Homo sapiens: one gene and its partners. The protein of the gene in region 3 interacts with the protein of the main gene of each other region in a pairwise test. Each region holds a gene or a part of one and is shown on either strand. Other genes may lie near its edges.

Evidence for each region. Proteins that work in one complex are often made in the same cells at the same time.
Region 1: the proteins of TSNAX (region 3) and GPATCH2 interact in binary tests that used the Homo sapiens proteins (3 or more experiments, as listed by UniProt).
Region 2: the proteins of TSNAX (region 3) and CEP68 interact in binary tests that used the Homo sapiens proteins (3 or more experiments, as listed by UniProt).
Region 4: the proteins of TSNAX (region 3) and GLE1 interact in binary tests that used the Homo sapiens proteins (3 or more experiments, as listed by UniProt).

Annotation. Positions count from the first base shown.
Region 1 is NC_000001.11:217,617,154-217,621,681, forward strand, and holds part of GPATCH2 (G patch domain-containing protein 2), read right to left. Parts: intron 3,347-4,528; coding exon 2,630-3,346; intron 1-2,629. UniProt on the Homo sapiens protein: Enhances the ATPase activity of DHX15 in vitro.
Region 2 is NC_000002.12:65,065,825-65,070,352, reverse strand, and holds part of CEP68 (centrosomal protein of 68 kDa), read right to left. Parts: intron 955-4,528; 5' UTR 909-954; coding exon 552-908; intron 1-551. UniProt on the Homo sapiens protein: Involved in maintenance of centrosome cohesion, probably as part of a linker structure which prevents centrosome splitting. Required for localization of CDK5RAP2 to the centrosome during interphase. Contributes to CROCC/rootletin filament formation.
Region 3 is NC_000001.11:231,541,203-231,546,392, reverse strand, and holds part of TSNAX (translin-associated protein X), read right to left. Parts: intron 3,913-5,190; coding exon 3,782-3,912; intron 1-3,781.
Region 4 is NC_000009.12:128,510,628-128,515,155, reverse strand, and holds part of GLE1 (mRNA export factor GLE1), read right to left. Parts: intron 1-4,528. UniProt on the Homo sapiens protein: Required for the export of mRNAs containing poly(A) tails from the nucleus into the cytoplasm. May be involved in the terminal step of the mRNA transport through the nuclear pore complex (NPC).

The DNA of each region.
Region 1 (4,528 bases), about 14 Mb from region 3:
ATAGCAGATAGACCTCTGAGAAATGCTTTTTGCTGTAATTCTGATCCCACTTTATTGCCGGTAAAAACAAAGTATGTATTTTCATTTCACAATTCATGCCTTTGCACAAGCTGCTCCCTCTCTACCTATGAATGCCATTTCCCTCTCTTCTCTTGACTTCCTCAATTCCTGAACAAGTCTTACTACTTGCTTTAAAGCACAGTTCCCTTAGCAAGTCTTCCCTCACTAATACTTTCCACTCAGCACATTTCATTTTCATCATTTGCTTGCCTGGCTATCCCAGACTATGCAGCTGTTGAGAACAGAGTCTCCATTATTAGTCCAGGTGCCACCAGTGAAGAGTAAATTGTAGTTAATCATCAATGTTTGTTAAATCTGACACACACACACAGCCCCCCACACTGAAGTTTCTCTTATTTATAAATCAACCCCAAGGAAATATAAAGCTTTTTGTAGTAGGAAAGCTTTGGAAGTAGTCTTGAAAACGCTTATACTTGTTACCAAAATACCTTAAATATTTAGCAATCTTTGCACAGAAGGAATTTGCACCTAACTTTTAAGTGACAACAGAAAATAGTTTATAAATAAGTTTCAAATCAGAGAAAATATATTTTTTAACATTTATTCAAGAGTAAAAACATACTCTGAAAACGTGTACCTGGGCTGTTTGTGGACTGCTAGGTAGCCTGTTCATGCCTAGTAGATACTCAAATACTTTTTACAATGAAAAGAAATGAAAAATGAGAGTTTGATCTCATATCCATTACCAGTTACATGTCCTATAAAAAAGCAGATCAATAAAAGGAGAACTAAAAAAAAGGGGGGGAGCTTGCACAATGAATCCAAAAAGCAGGTAATCTAATTGTAAATAATCCAGAATTGAGTATGTTATATCAGCTGCCACATACTCTCCCTCCCGGTAATTGAGTCAGACAATTACTTTCAAGTAAGGTTGAATGGTCTTAAGTCACAATGGCCTAATACAAATAATACTTATTTCCATATAAGAATGACAATTTTCTTGCAAGAAAAACAGATACCATAAACTTTTCAAAGCCCTCTGGAAACTTTTTTTTTTTTTTTTTTTTGAGATAGAGTCTTGCTCTGTCGCAGTGGCACGATCTTGGATGTCTGTAATCTCCGCCTCCCAGGTTCAAGCAATTCTCCTGCCTCAGCCTCCTGAGTAGCTGGGACTCGGCGCACATCACCACACTCGGCTAATTTTTCTATTTTTGCTAGAGACGGGGTTTCACCATACTGGTCTGGCTGGTCTCAAACTCCTGACCTCAGGTGATCCACCAGCCTCAGCCTACCAAAGTGCTGGGAGTAAAGGCATGAGCCGCCATGCTCAGCCACAATTTTTTAATGTAAGTAATTTTTACTTCTTTAGAAAAATTATATGACTAGCACACCATGTCTAATAAAAGGATAATTCCATAAACTTTTACCAGGTCCCACTCATTTACAAGCAAAAAAACCCCAAAAAAACAAAATAAAAAATAAAAACCAAATAAAAGATTGATAGCTCACCACAATTCACATGATTAAAATGATCCCAGCCCTTGGGAGGCCAAGGTGGGTGGATCACTTGAGGTCAGGGGTTGAAGACCAGCCTGGCCAACATGGTGAAACCCCGTCTCTACTAAAAATACAAAAAAAATTCGCCAGGCATGGTGGTGCACACAGGTAATCCCAGCTACTCCGGAGGCTGAGGCAGGAGAATCACCTGAACCCAGGAAGTGGAGGTTGCAATGAGCTGAGATCACACCCTTGCACTCCAGCCTGGGAAACAGAGTGAGTCTCTATCTCGAAAAAAAAAAAAAGATAGCAGCCCTATAAATTAAAAATCAATTACTCTTTCTCAGGCCATATTTACAGACTGTTTTTTTCTGGCTCATAGTTCAGCATTCGGTTTTGCGGACCCATGCCTAAAAGGAAAAAGTGTTAATACATTCTCATTTCTTGCAAGTAGCATCACTTCATCATTTCAGTATAAAAGAAAAATGATCACTTACCTTTTGATGCTGTCAAAATAGTACTTAACAATTATTGACAGATTAGATTTACTACCACAGGACCATTGTTTTTCCTATTTTTCTAATGACAAAACCAGGTGTTTCTAGACTATAAATTGGGTTTTAAAATTCATAAGTGATCAGAATTCCTAGAAAGCTCCAGATTTTTTATGTCAAGCCACAGACATGTCGAAGTGGTATAAACTTTTGATGTTCAAGAATCAGGATAGATTAATGAATTGTGACACTCTATAAAGTACCAAAAGCTAAAGGTCTATAATTAAACATATAATTATATATCCAATTCTGAGTTACAAACGTGCTGTTATTCAAAAGCACATTCTTTTCCACTGAAAATCCATTTCCTTTCCTCCTTGTAGCTGAAAATTGAGTCATTATAATACAATCAAAAGACTTTGTGTAAATCAAACAAGCAATTTTGCTTTGTGCTAAACATCATAAAGTATAAGGAAATATAACCATAGCTAAACAGTAATATCACTATCATTATTACAATTTATAATTATTTTAAAATAGAATTAATTAAAATATAAAACATTCAACCACAAACACTGGAGATAAATATTTTTATATTTAGAGAATATAAAAGTCACCTTTCACTCATGAGCTCATCTGAGACTTTTTGCTCTTCACATTCCATTTTGTCCTTATTGGTCTGGTTCGTTTCCTCACTTTCTAAAACTACTCCTTCATCTTGGATTTTTGGTCCTTGTCTGATTATTTTCAACTTTCTTTTTTTGACTTTGTTCTTGGTAAATTCTTGATACTGGTAGGCTCTATCACTGTCCATGTCCTGATCTCTACAACCCTCAGGTGGCTGGGTCATTGTCCGTTTGTTAGAGATGTCCTGTGGGAGATCTACTGCCATGCGTTTTACCTTTCTCCTCCTGCGCAGAGTTCTATTCCCAACATTGTCCACAGCAAAATCAGACTCATGCCATAGAGGTCTTTTCCCTCGAACATTATTATTTAAGTTTGATGACGGCCTGCGCTTTGCTACTAACATTTGGTCATCAGAGTCACTGTGATCTTTTTTATTATTATTGTGATTCTCTCTATAGTCCTTGCTTGGTTCTTCTAAACTAGAATCAGAGCCTTCACTTAAGCAGTGACCAGTCTCCCACGGGTGATGCACATTATACGACCTCCGTTTTCTCCCTCTCCTTTTCCTTGCCTGGCGTTTCAGAGGGCAAGATATACTTCGAGAATGGTCTCCTGTTTCAGCAAATCCACCTCGAGCTTGCTCTGAGCTCTCTTCCAATGCTGAGACAAGGTCATGAACCAGCTCCTCCATGGTTCTACTGAAATGCCTTCATTTTTTAGAGAAAGAAAAAAGAAAATAGTCAGTCTTAACCACAGTAACCTCATTTTCTATAACAGACAATTCATTCTAAATTCGACAAAAATTAATGATTACAAAATGTTTCAAAGCTAATTTTCCTATCCAAGATATTACAGTTTTAAATATTGATTCATTTTAGGCCTCTTCTTATATAAGTTCTTTTATTAAACATAGGAATTACTTCCAAGATAGAATAAGCTTATGAGCAATGAAAGATCCCAGTATTTTTATATTTTTCTGTATAATTATGGAAAAGTTCTGTTTAAATCCCTATCCGCTGGCCCACTCCTACCCCTTTTCTAGAGCCAGTTTTCCTACAGCAGATACAGAAAGAACTTTCTCAGTCCCCTCTTCGCCCACTAATCTCTAAGTAAAAAAAGAAACATGAAATCTTCTATTCACCACGTGCCCTAACCAGTCACTGTCATATAAGAGGCAGTTAGAAAGACAGACAGGTAGTTTCAGGATTAGTAATATACGTGAAAGTTTAACCAACACCATGCATTTATTTAGGCCACACTAATCTCTTAACCCAGTGAAGCACAAACTACATTCGCATTCAAATTGGAGCCTCACTGGTTTCAAAGGGCCCATCATTACTTCATTCTGAAGCAATCTCTTAGGCTTTCCTTTTTTAAGAGCATTAAACTATATTACCAGTATGAAAATTATCCAGTAGTCAGCAAGAATAAGCATAAGCATTCTTTGGGAATTTTTATAAATTATACCTGTCCTTTTAAAACCCAATTCCCAAAGATTTTAAATTAGTTGGGGTGACATACAGCCAAGGTATCTGGTTTTATTTTTTAAACATCACAGGCAATTCAGATTTGCACCCGTCTTATGAAGACCACAGGCAATCATTTCTAAAATCGAGATCTAGAGGCACCTAGGGATTGAAATATTCTCAACAGTCATACAGAGCTTCTAGAGCCTACAGCAGGAGTAGGCTTTTATGTAACTGGCCTGCTAGTAAATATTCTAGGCTTTGCAGGCCATTGGGTCTCCCAAAACTACTCAACTTGCCACTATAATGCAAAAATAGCCACAAGCAATACATAAATAAATGGGTATGGCTGTGTTCTAATAAAGTTTTATTTATAGAATCAGGTTATAGCTGGTTATAGTTTGCTGACCCATAGTCTATATA
Region 2 (4,528 bases), on a different chromosome or scaffold from region 3:
GGATTCCCTGCCCCATGTGACTCCCACTAGGAGAAGCTGCCTGGCAGTCAGAGAAGCCCAAGGAATTCTCCTTAACCAGGGACAGTGCTGCCTACTACAGGGCTCCAAGGTTCTGACATGTCCCTTGGGTCTGAAGAGGATTTAGGTTCAGAGCCCCCAGGAGCCCAAAGCCCTGGACACTCCTTTCCCAAGTCTCTTCAGGGTACCCCTAAAGCCTTTAATCACCAAGTCAGAAACACGGCAGGGCTCTCCTTGCCAGAATTCCCCTGGCCTGGACCTCTGGGCAGCAGCCTCTTGGCCTATAATCCCTGGTCCTTAAAAAGTCACCAGTCACTCTTGAGGAACAGGAGATAACCGTGGACAGTCCCCCCGGCCGGTCCTGAGGCCCAGCTCTCTAGCTGAACCCGCAAAACAGAAATCATCATACTCAGGCCCCTCCAATTCCTCACCCTGCACAGTAGCAAGGAAAGGATGCAAGATGGTGAGGAAATCCTGAACAAACTCCCAAAGGACAGCAATGGGTCCATCTACAGTCTTGCCTTAGTACCTACCTGGCTTTCCCCGGAGAGCAGAAGGTCTCCAGACCCCATGGTGGCAGGAGGCAGGCCACTGAGTGCAGGCTCAGACCTCTCAGCTACGGGCTCTCTGTTGGCATCACTGGCCTGTGGCTGGTGGGCTCTAGAGGGGCCGCCAGGGTCAGTCCCAATCCAGCAAGTAGGGGCAGGTATCCCTTCTGCCCCCCATACAGGGGAGATGAGCCCTCCCTCAGCTTCCAGGCGTGGGGGCTGCTCCCCACTCATGGGCCCTGGGATGTCCAGCTCCCGCTCCCTGCAGCTCCCTCTCCCATAGGACTGGGCCTTTGTGTCTTCAGATGCTTCCGCTTCTGCCTTTTCTTCACCCAGGGCCATTGAGACTCCCTACCTAGGTCAGGGTTCTGCTGAAGACTTCAGCTTCCTACAAAACAGGGGAAGGGAGAGAAAAATATAAATCTTCTACATCTGTGTTCAGGAAGTCTTGCTCTTTAACAATTAAGGCAAACATATTTTTGGTCAAAGAAAAAAGGAAACAAATGGTGACTACTTCCTCAGAGGAGCACCGAGTTCCGGCTTTTCCCTGGCCCCAGACCTTTCCAAAGGGGACACAGAAGCACACCATTTCCCCTCTGCTTTCATGGTGGATGGTGCCATCCCCACCAGCAGAAACCCAAGAGGGTCAACACAGGTCCAAAGTCCAATCAAGGCTGGGGTCCTGCCTAAGTCACCTTTTTGCCCTTTTAGCCCAACCCCACTGGGTAAGAGGCCTGGTGGGACCCTTCCTGTGCACAGGCCCATAGTGGTTCTGTTGTCGTAACGGTCCCCTCAGCAAGCAACTCAGGCCTGGCTCTGACTGTTCTATCCTAGAGAACAGCAAGTCAGGGCATGCCCAGGCCTCAGCTGGGCACTGGAAGAATGCCCTCCAAGATGCTTGGCTCTGCCTGGCAGAGGAGGCAGGACCCTCTCTTTTCTTTTCTTTTTTTCTTTTTTCTGAGACAGGGTCTTACTCTGTCACCCAGGCTGGAGTGCAGTGGCATGATCTCAGCTCACTGCAGCCTCGACCTCCCTGGGCTCAGGTGATCCTCCCACCTCAGCCTCCTGAGTAGCTGGGACTACAGGCACATGCCACCACGCCTGGCTAATTTTTCTATTTTTAGTAGAGACAGGGTTTCACCATGTTGCCCAGGCTGGGACCCTCTCAAAGCACAGAAACCACATCCAGCCTGTGGAACAGGTGAGAGCTACTTGTTCCAAGGATGGCCAGTGACCAAAGAGAAAGAGATCAGCAACTCTCCTCAGGCTGGCCTGGGTTATGCTGCACGTGGTGATGGAGGGAAGCTGTGGAAAGCTGGTGGGTAACAGTGGTAGGGTAAGTGTAACACAGCATGTGTGCACATGAGAGCAAGAGCCAATCAGCAGGCAGGCAGGCGAGGGAGCACAGGCCGAGCACTCAGGGAAGGATGATGATTTGGGAGCTGAATCTGCAAACAGGACCATTCCAACACAAAGAGGTTCAGGAACAACAGAGGGACATCACCCTCAGCCTAAGCATGCCAGCAAAAGTTGATGCTGAGAGCCCTGGTGGGATGGGGTAGGGGGCCAAAAAGCCAACAGGAGGAAGACCAATGCTGGGAGGATGTGGAAGGGGAGGTAACGGAACCGTGAATGCCCAGGATGTCGGCAGCCACCCGGAGTGCACTGGGCCAACCTCAAAGCTTAAATGTGGGCAGAAATGGCCTTGTTTCCTTAGTCAGGAGGCAAACAGATGGTAAGAGGAGATGCTGGTGGAGAGCCTGCAAAGGGGGAATGGCTGCGGGCTCATCTTACTCAGCTCACACGCTGGGAAATACCACCTAGATGGGCACTGCACACACTGAGGACGCCTTGCACTGGAATCCAAGAGGGCCCTTCCCTACTCTGCCTGATGGGGCATGCCAGGCTCCAGCCTGATTCAGAAGTGACCCTGGAGAAGAGCATGCCCTTCGCACGGACGCTCGTCTAGTTCCCACAACCACCAGGTGGGGCAGGAACTAATCAGAAAATTATTTTTGAAAGGTAATATACAGCTCAAATGTAAAATGCACAGCAGATGTAAGTCTCTCTCCGCCCTTGTCCCCCATTCCTTTGCCAAAATGAGCCAGGGCAGGCAGAACATCTATGACAGTGCCTGGCATGGTATGGACACTAAGTGTTGGCTGTTGTCATTAGTGTCATGGGGAGGCATGGACAGAATCAGTGTAACAGGTCACCTTACAAGGAAGGACAAAGGAGCCAAATGGGAGAAAAAGCAGCCCATTTTTAAATACAAATCAAACAAAATATTTACTACTAGATACTCCCACAAAATCAGGGAACCAGCCTTACTAGTTTTGTGTATGACCCTTGTTTCCTGATGCAAATATCTATGTTCATCCTTCCCCCACTTTTGTTCCCCCAGAAACTGAGTCTTGCTCCATCACCCAGGCTAGATAGAGTTCAGCGGTGTGATCTCAGCTCACTGCAACCTCCACCTCCCGGGTTCAAGCGATTCTCCTACCTCAGCCTCCCGGCTAGCTGGGACTACAGGCGTGCGCCACCATGCCTGGCTAATTTTTTTATATTTTTAGTAGAGATGGGGTTTCACCATGTTAGCCAGGCTGGTCTTGAACTCCTGACCTCAGGCAATCCACCCACCTCCCAAAGTGCTGGGATTATAGGCATAAGCCACTGTACCAGGCTTATCCTTCCCTCCCTTTTTTTTTTTACATAAAAGTAGCAAACTGTATAGGTCATACTATTCAGAACCTTGGTTTTCTTTTCTCTACAAAAAATATCTAGGGGCTCATTCCTAAGCAATACAGCAGGTCCTTCAGTAACATCACTTGGTACGATATCTTTTTTTTTTTTGAGACAGAGTCTCACTCTGTTGCCCAGGCTGGAGTGCACTGGTGCGATCTCAGTTCACTGCAACCTCCGCCTCCCTGGTTCAAGCAATTCTCCTGCCTCAGCCTCCCAAGCAGCTGGGATTACAGGCATGTGCCACCATGCCCAGCTAATTTTTTTTTGTGTGTGTATATATATATATATATATATATTTTTTTTTTTTTTTTTTTTGAGACAGAGTCTCACTCTGTCTTCCAGGCTGGTGTGCAGTGGTGTGATCTCGGCTCACTGCAACCTCTGCCTCCTGGGTTCAAGCAATTCTCTGCCTCAGCCTCCCGAGTAGCTGGGATTACAGGCACCCACCACCACACCTGGCTAATTTTTATATTTTTAGTAGAGATGGGGTTTCACCATCCTGGCCAGGCTGGTCTTGAAATTCTGACCTTATGATCCACCCGCCTCAGCCTCCCAAAGTGCTGGGATTACAGGCGTGAGCCACCGTGCCTGGCCAATTTTTGTATTTTTAATAGAGACGGGGTTTCGCCATCTTGGCCAGGCTGGTCTTGAACTTCTGACCTCGTGATCCACCCGCCTCAGCCTCCCAAAGTGCTAGGATTACAGGTGTAAGCCACACCGCCCAGCCGGTCCAATGTCTTTTCATTATATCATTGATAAGAAACCCTGATTCCTGACTGAGGTCACTGTCTGTATGGAGTGTGCACATTCTCCCCATGTCTGCCTGGATGATATCCAGTTCATCTGGATACTCGGGTTTCCTCCCACATCCTGAAAACATATACTTAGGTGAATGGGGCTGACTACATGGTCCTGGTCTGAGTGTGGGTAGATGAGTGAGCGTGCCCTGCCATGGGATGAAGTCCTGCCCATGATTGGTTCCCTCCTTACACCCTCAGCTGCTGGGACAGGCTCCAGCTACCTGCGAACTTGAACCCATTTGAGTAAGCAGGTAAATCATAATCTTGTGTTTTTTTTTTTTTTTTTAAGATGAAGTCTCGGTTTGTCACCTAGGCTGGAGTGCAGTGGCGTGATCTTGGCTCACTGCAACCTCCGGCCCCTGGCTTCAAGCAATTCTCCTGCTTCAGCCTTCTGAGTAGCTGGGACTACAGACACTC
Region 3 (5,190 bases):
CTGCTAGTATGTCTAAGAAATAGCTCCTGGAAACTTGCTTTCTTTCGGAAGAAACAAAAAACAGTAAAATATAAACTTGTGAAAGCAAATCATCAGATAAAGCATATGGCTGAACAACAACAAAAAGCCTTTTAAAATTAGTTTTGTTCTTCATTCTTTTCAACATTTGTATTTCGGGAGACTTATTAGGTGTCTGGGATATATAAAGTGAAAAACAGGAATGAAATCTTTGTAGAGATCTATAGAGTCTACATTCTAGTAAGGGAAAGAGAGATAATGAAGAAATATAATATATAAAGAGATTACACATTAGAAGTTGAGAAGTGCTATGAAAAAAGGGCCACAGTGTGTGCTGGGTTTATGAGGAAAACCTCAGTATTTGGGGTAAGCAAAATAAAGCCTTTGCTAGGAGTTAGGTTGTAAAGTTAAGAGGTAAATGAAATCCATGTGGGAAGAAACCAATGGTACCACGTGCTAGCTTATGACCCTGAGCATAACTTGTGAGCCTCAATCTCCCCGCCTGTGAAGTGGTAAAAATATCTATGATTTAGAGGTATTGCAAAAACCTATGAGATTGTGAATATAAAGAATAGTGGCTAAAAACATATCTTAACTGGCCCAAAACATCCACTTTACCCATCATTCACATTCTTGGATAAAAGAATTAAAACATTAATTAGGATATAAACTTAGTTTTGTGTACCGAAATGTCTCAAAAAATGACAATTCTTATCATTATCAGTGATATAAACTAAACTTAAGAAAAAAACATGTATTTCTTCTTTGAAATGGAGGACATTTCCCCCAAACTGTTAATTTTTCAACAAGAGGGAAAAAAAAAATGACAGGACACAAATTTTTTTTTAAAGACTTATTTCAAGCAGCTAATTATTTGTTCATTTGTTTAACCATCCCTTGGGACAATCTGTAATCTACTCTGATAAGAAATGTGTAGAAAACAGACCTGACGTTTTGTTGTTGTTCAATTATTAGGATACTCAATGTTTGAGCTCACACAAGTATCCCTTAGGGAAATGCTCTGCGTGCCATTAGCACTATTCTTAATGAGGAAAAGCACAGAACTCCTTTAGTTCATTGCCAGAATTGTTTTATCTTCAAGTCAAAAGAACAACTATTTGGAGTAATACCAAAACAAGCATTTAACAATTACAAGCAGCAAGCTATTCATAAGCATCATATTGTTAATGCTAATCCAATTATAAATAACCTTATTTTATCAAATAAAATATCTGTCAGCAAAATTTTCGGTCCTAGACACCTCTTTACTTGACTGCTTTATTCCTTAACTTTAAGAAAAAACATCTTTATTGCTTCAATTCAAAGAATCTCATTTTAAAGACTTTTTACAGAAAAGATACAGAAAATCCTTCATTATTTTAATCCATGAGTAAGTTATCTTCAAAGGAAACTTACAAATCATAAACGAAGGCCTAAAAGAGACCACTGTGCTTATAATAATCCTCAATGATACAGTGAAGTAGGAAAATCTGAAGATCTATCATTCCCATTTTCTTAATGTCCTATCTTTCCAAGAGTACAGCACTTCCTTCCTGCATTAGGAAATAATCTACTGAATATTTCCCTTTCACCTTTTTCTCTCCATTTCTCTGTTCTGTAAGACAATGTACAGCTTTCTAGGTTGCTTTTGGTATCATTATCTATATGGCCTTGGCCCTTATTTAAACTCTTTATCTTTATACTTCACTGATGCATGAGGACATACAAAATAGAACTACTGGGCCAAATACAGCAAATCTGAAATGTCCCATATGTCCCACAGATATTTGGGGAACTTGATGTTGTCACAATTAGTAGAGCCTAATCATGCACTAATAAGGAATTGAGAAGTCTAAACATGAAAAACTTTTTCACACATGAGGCACCAACATTTTGGGGAAAATATGTGAATTTTTATTAAAATACAAGTTTTAAGCAGACTGAAGTCCAAAGTGAGAACTACTGTGATCAGCTTTTATTACATTTATTAACTGTCATGAATTTTTGCAAGATAGGCATACTACATGATGATGTGATAGAAAAAATGATAAAGATTATGGAAGTTATTCAAACTCTTGCCTTTAGTCATTCAGGTTAATAGGATACTTAGGAAAAGCTGTAGAATTGGATTTCTGTTTAATACAGACATTTAGACTGTACTGCTGCTTCAGTTCAAGCACTTTCCAGAAACTAAGAGACCTAACTTGGTCCCCCACCACCACCAACACTACCACCCAGTAGCCCTCAAGATTACACACGCATACCTAACTTATGTATAGCAGGACTACTCTGTCTGAAATATTTTCCTGCTATGAATCTATCTGTAGTATGGTCACAGCTACTATTATAAAGATATTCTCATGTTTTCTGCCAAGCTTGATTTACCTTTTACTTCACCCTTCTTCCCACCAGTACTTCTGATCCTGTCTCCCACTCCAGCCAAATCTGTCACACTTTACAGGTTGTGCCACTTTACAACAAACTAAATTCATGAAGTCATCTTTATTGTGTGTGCTATTATTAAGAAATCAAATAAACCCCTGATATTAATAAATTATGATGGCAGACTGTATTTCATTTGGTAATATGTTATAATGACTCCTCACAGAACTGTTTTACACTTCAGTTTCCAACAATGCACCCTCAGTTTTAACTAATGTATGCTGGTACTTTCTCTTACCCATATTAGAAGACATATCAACATTTCTGAAAAAACAAGTGCTGAAATTATAAACGTTTAGGCTAAAACTGGGTATTCGTATTAAGCAGATACCAAATAAACTCATTTCCCAGTCTTCCTGCAAATCTTAGGGTACTGATATTGAGCATTCCTAATCCAAAAATCCTAAATCCGAAATGGTCCAAAATCCAAAACGTTTTGAGTGCTGACACGATGCTCAAAGGTCATGCTTAAAAGAAATGCTCATTGGAGCATTTCAGGTTCCTGGATTAGAGATGCTCAAGCAGTAAACTGTGAATATTTCAACACTCAAAATCTGAAACACTTCTGTTCCCAAGCATTTTGGATAAGGGATACTGAACCTGTATCTGAATTATCTAGTATCTGTCCTATCAATGAACCCACATTAGAAAAAGAAGAAAGAGGAAAGAACCAAGCACTTTATACATTTATTCAATTTATTTGAAAATAATGATAACCACCAAGATCCAGTATACCCTCAAAATTTTTTTTTTTTGAGACGGAGTCTTGTGCTGACGCCCAGGCTGGAGTGCAGTGGTGCGATCTCGGCTCACTGCAACCTCCACCTCCCGGGTTCAAGTGATTCTCCTGCCTCAGCCTCCGGAGTAGCTGGGATTACAGGCGCCCGCCAACGCACCTGGCTAAGTTTTGTATTTTTTAGTTGAGTCGGGGTTTCACCATCTTGGCCAGGCTGGTCTCGAACTCCTGACCTGGTGATCCACCCGCCTCGGCCTTCCAAAGTGCTGGGATTACAGGCGTGAGCCACCACTGAGATGTGCCCTGTCTGAACACATCCTACATACTCAAGAATAAAGTTCATCCTATTAAATCTGTGTTCTCAAATACTTTATTAAAATCAATCAATGACCATCACTACACTGTTAAAAAAAACATAAAGCCAACTTGCCTTTGGATTACTTCTATATTACTACAAAGTTGCAGTTCTTTAAAAGCCAGTATTATTATTTCATCAGGTGTCACTTAAAATTCATGCAACTCACATGTTAATCATGTAGCACACCATTTAAAATATATATTACCCTGAAACAAACCTAGACTTACCTGTAGTAATGGCTCGATGGAACTGATGCATATCTTCCCCTGATAGCTCTTGGGCTACCTGGAATATCTTTTGTCTGACACCATCCAATTTAATTTCTGATTCAGTCAATATATCTTCCATATCAGGAGCACTATGATCAAGATATTGGGAACTTTTAGAACATCAGATGCTTTAACAGTGAAAAACTAAAATAACCTAATTATCAACATAGGGCTAAATATTGTATGCATTCATATACTTCTAACTCAAAACTACTCAAAACTATTCATAGTATGGAGAACATGAAAATGTTATTAACACACTGTTAAGTGAAAAAAGTATACAAAAATTGTATGTTTACTATAAGAAAAATTTTGTTCATAAAAATATGATATATGGATAAATGTCTGCTTTCAGTAAGGGCAGAGTAACGTGGACTGGATTTATCCTCCCTCCTTAAACAACTAAAAAGAAAAAATAAATACAGAAAACAATGGTTACAGACACTGGACTACAGGCAGCATGGAGCAGTGATCCCTGGGGAAAGGGAGGAGAACAACATATACCCTCTGACTGCCCCATCTTATTGCCTGGAAAGCTTCCAAGTGACAGTACAGAGACAGGAAACTTAGGTGGAGCCTGGGAGTCAGCCTGAGTAGAAAAGGAGTTGGGAGTTTTGGGGGATCGAGACAGCTAAAATTTGCAGAGCAGAGTAACAATGAGGAGAAAGCTGTATAAACAGAGAGCTTCAGAGATTTATAGAAGCAACCTCCTCAAGTCTTCAGTTGAGTACTGATCAGTGCAGGCATGTGAGGAAACTACCTAAGGCTGGAAAAAGAATTGCCCAAAGTGAGCAGGCAGAACAATCCCCTTAGTTCACAGAGCCGGAAAGAATTGATTTATCATCAGCAGATTGACACTACAAAAAATATTAAAAGAAGTTCTTTAGGCAAAAGGAAAATGATACCAGATAAAAATCTGAATCTATACACAAAGGAATGAACATTTACAAAAATTGGTAAATGTGGATAAATATTTTTCTTATTTTTAAATCATACTGTTTAAAGTAAAAATCATAACATATTGTGGAAACAACAAAAGTAGAAATAACATGAATCACAACAGTAGCACAAAAGGCCAAGCTAGTAGAGGGGAAATGGAAAAGGAAGTATAAGATTTTTATACCATACGCGAAATGATAAGTAGTCCTTACTTTGCATGGTACTGTGTTAACTGAAACTTGGGCACATCAAAACTGTGACCTTCACTGGCAAAGTAACTGTTACCAAAAAATCATGCAAAGTGAAAAGATTCTTGTATGCACAAATTTTAGTAAACACAGTATTGTACAAAGTGAGAATAGTTGACAATAAGATATATATTATGAACCATAAAACAATCACTACAAAAACAAAACAAAAAAGGCATA
Region 4 (4,528 bases), on a different chromosome or scaffold from region 3:
TCAGGAGAAAGCTGGCTATCAAAGTACTCTATCCTCAGGCCGGGTGTGGTGGCTCACGCCTGTAATCCCAGTACTTTGGGAGGCAGAGGTGGGCGGATCACAAAGTCAGGAGTTCGAGACCATCCTGACCAACATGGTGAAACCCCGTCCCTACTAAAAACACAAAAATTAGCCAGGCGTGGTGGCACGCACCTATAATCCCAGCTACTGAGGAGGCAGGCTAAGGCAGGAGAATCCCTTGAACCCAGGAGGCGGAGGCTGTAGTGAGCTGAGATCGCGCCACTGCACTCCAGCCTGGGCGACAGAGCAAGACTCCATCTCAAAAAAAAGGCCAGGCACCTTTTTCCCCAGCACTTTGGGAGGCTGTGGTGGGCGGATTACAAGGTCAGGAGTTTGAGACTATCCTGACCAACATGGTGAAACCCTGTCTCTACTAAACATACACAAGACATACCCTGTCTCTACTAAACCCTGTCTCTACTAAACATACACAAGACATACTCTGTCTCTACCAAACATACACAAGTTAGCCGGGCATGGTGGCACGTGCCTAGGCATGGTGGCGGGCGCCTGTAGTCCCAGCTACTCGGGAGGCTGAGGCGGGAGAATGGCGTGAACCTGGGAGGTGGAGCTTGCAGTGCGCAGAGATCGTACGACTGCACTCTAGCCTGGGATACAGAGACTCCGTCTCAAAAAAAAAAAAAAAAAAAGTCTGCTATCCTCCTACACCCAGTATGGACTTGAGGAATGAAAAATATGACCTGAAGGCCAGAGTTCATCTTTGAACTTTTCTAAGTTTTTTTTTTTTTTTTTTTTTGAAACAAGATCTCACTCTGTTTCCCAGGCTGGAGTATAGTGGCGTGATCACGGATCATTACAGCCTGGACCTTCCAGCTTCAATTGATCCTCCTGCCTCAGTCTCACAAGTAGCTGGGACCACTGGCGCACGCCACCACACCTGGCTAATTTTTGTATTTTTTTGTAGAGACAGGGTTTTGTCATGTTGCCCAGGCTGGTCCCAAACTCCTAGTCTCAGGCAAGCCTCCTACCTCAGGCTCCCAAAGTGCTACAATTACAGGCATGAGCCACTATGCCTGGCCTATTTTTTTTCTTTTTCTTTTTCTTTTTTTTTTTTTTTGAGATGGAGTCTCACTCTGTTGCCCAGGCTGGAGTGCAGTAGCGCAATCTCGGCTCACTGCAAGCTCTGCCTCCCGGGTTCATGCCATTCTCCTGCCTCAGCCTCCCAAGTAGCTGGGACTACAGGAACCCTCCACCACGCCAGGATAATTTTTTTTGTATTTTTAGTAGAGATGGTGTTTCACCATGTTAGCCAGGATGGTCTTGATCTCTTGACCTCGTGATCCACCCGCCTTGGCCTTCCAAAGTGCTGGGATTACAGGCGTGAGCCACCGCACCCCGCCTTTTTTCTTTTCTTTTTTTTTTTTTTGAGACAGGGTCTTACTCTATCACCCGTGCTGGCATACAGTCGTGCTATCTAGGCTCACTGCAGCCATGACCTTCCAGGATCAAGGATCCTCCTACCTCAGCCTTCTGAGTAGCTGGGACCGTAGGCATGAGCCATCATGTTCAGGTAATTTTTTTGTAAATATGGAGTTTCCCCATGTTGCGCAGGCTAGTCTCGAATGCCTGAGCTCAAATGTTCCACCTGCCTTGGCCTCCCAAAGTCCTGGGATTCCACACCCAGCTTTTTTATTTTCATTAACACACCTGACATGGATATCTTTGAACTTTTCTGATGAAGCTATCTGGGAATGCTAACCTAAGAAGATGCTGAGTCCAGGGCTACCAGTAGCCATCTTGCCACCTAATCTATCTCAACAATGAAACCAATAACTGAGAAATGGAGAGGCAAAGCCCCATGTTTGGGACACTAGATTGAGTCAAAAATAATCAATCCTATGTGGGGGAGATGTTTGAAAAATAATAATAAATAATGTCAAGCAGAAAGATGCAGAATGTAGATGTTCCTAGATCTAGGTGATTCCAAATGCACTCCTAGACTTCCTAGTTACATGAACTAATTAATACTTCCCTCAGTCCCTTAAGCCAAACTGGGTTTTTCTTACGTAAATACCAAAAATTCCTAAATAATGTGACAATCCATTACATAAAACCATTTAATAATTTATTAGGCCAGGCGCAGTGGCTCCAAAAATTACGGAATTTTATACGTGAAAATAACCTCGGGCTGGGCACGGTGGCTCATGCCTGTAATCCCAGCATGTTGGGAGGCCAAGGCGGGTGGATCACCTGAGGTCACCTAGCCTGACCAACATGGTGAAACCCCGTCTCTACGAAAAATACAAAATTAGCCAGGCATGGTGGCGCGTGCCTGTAATCCCAGCTACTCAAGAGGCTGAGGCAGGAGAATCACTTGAACCTGGGGTTGCAGTGAGTCGAGATCACGCCATTGCACTCCAGCCTGGGCGACAAAAGCGAAACTCCATATTAAAAAAAAAAAAGACCTCAGCAATTTGGTCCAGAATGAGATTTACAGATAAAGACACTGAAGTCCACTGAGGAAAAGAGGCCCACCTGAGGGCACGCCACAATATTGGCAGGATCAGATCAGAATCTGTTGCCAAGAAGCTGCTCATAAAAATACTTTTTAAAAATTTTAATTTTTAAATAATTAATGTTCACAGAAGGTTGCAAAAATACATACAGGAAGGTCGCATGTACTTTTCACCCAGTCTCCCCCAATAGTAATGTCTTTCATAAATACAATAAAATAACAAAACCAGTAAATTGATATTGGTACAATCCACAGAGCTTATTCAGATTTCACCAGTTTTAAAGGCATTCATTTGTGCTTATGTATAGTTCTATGTAATTTTATCACATGTAGATTCATGTAAACACCACCACACTCAAGATACAAAGCTGTTCTATCACCACCAACCACCCCATGTCACACCTATATTTATAGCCTCACCACTTCCTCCCCCATCCCTCATCTCTAAGCTATTCTCCTTCTCTACAGTTCTGCTAATTCAGGAATGTTAAATAAATAAATCTTCACCCAGGCCGGGCCTGGTGGCTCACGCCTGTAATCCCAGAACTTTGGGAGGCCAAGTTGGGCAGATCACCTGAGAACAGGAGTTCGAGACCAGCCTGGCCAACATGGTGAAACCCCGTCTACTAAAAGTACAAAAATTAGCCAGGCATGGTGGCAGGCGCCTATAATCCCAGCTACTCGGGAGGCTGAGGCAGGAGAATCACTTGAACCTGGGAGGCGGAGGTTGCATTAAGCCGAGATTGCACCATTGCACTCCAGCCTGGGGGACAAGAATGAGACTTCGTCTCAAAAATAAATAAAGAAATAAATCTTCACCCAGCCCTAGATTCTGGTTATGTTTTAGTTCTAAAAGGCTTACAGTTTTTTTTTTATGTTTAAGTCCATGATCACGTTAATTTTTTTTTTTTTTTGAGATGGAGTCTTGCTCTGTCGCCCAGGCTGGTGTGCAGTGGCGCAATCTCAGCTCACTGCAAGCTCTGCCTCCCGCGTTCACATCATTCTCCTGCCTCAGCCTCCTGAGTAGCTGGGACTACAGGTGCCCGCCAACTCGCCTAATTTTTTTTTTTATTTTTAGTAGAGAAGGGGTTTGACCGTGTTAGCCAGAATGGTCTTGATCTCCTGACCTAGTGATCCACCCGCCTTGGCCTCCCAAAGTGCTGGGATTACAGGCGTGAGCCACTGCACCCGGCCAAGTTAATTTTTATATAAGGTATGACATTTAGGTGGAGGTTCCTTTTTTTCCTTAAGACGTTCAGTTGCTAAAAATATATATTTTAAAGTACCTAGACCTTTTCTGGCAACAACAACAACAACAAAATCAACATAAATATATATATTTATGTATATTTATAATATATATATTATTTATTTTGTTGTTATTATTTACTCAGTCTCTATATATACATATATTTTGAGACTGAGTCTTGCTCCGTTACCCAGGCTAGAGTACAATGGCATGATCTCAGCTCACTGCAACCTCCGTCTCCCGGGTTCAAGCAATTCTAGTGCCTCAGCCTCCCAAGTAGATGGGATTACAGGCGTGCGCCACGACGCCCAGCTAATTTTGTATTTTTAGTAGAGACAGGGTTTCACTGTGGTCAAGCTGCTCTCGAACTACTGATCTCAAGTGATCCACCTGCCTCAGCCTCCCAAAGTGCTGGGATTACACGTGTGAGCCACCACACGTGGCCACAAAGAATATTTTTTAAAGACTAATATTTTAAAAGATGAACTACTAGATAGAAAAAAAATACTTTCTATGTAAAAAAGAAAAAAAAAAAAAAAACTGGCCAGGCACAGTGGCTCACGACTATAATCCCAGCACTTTGGGAGGCCGAGGTGGGTAGATCATCTGAGGTCAGTAGTTTGAGACCAGACTGGACAACATGGCAAAATCCTGTCTCTACTAAGAATACAAAAATTAGCCAGGCATGGTGGCGCACACCTGTAATCTCAGCTACTTGGGAGGCTGAGGCAGAAGAACCGCGT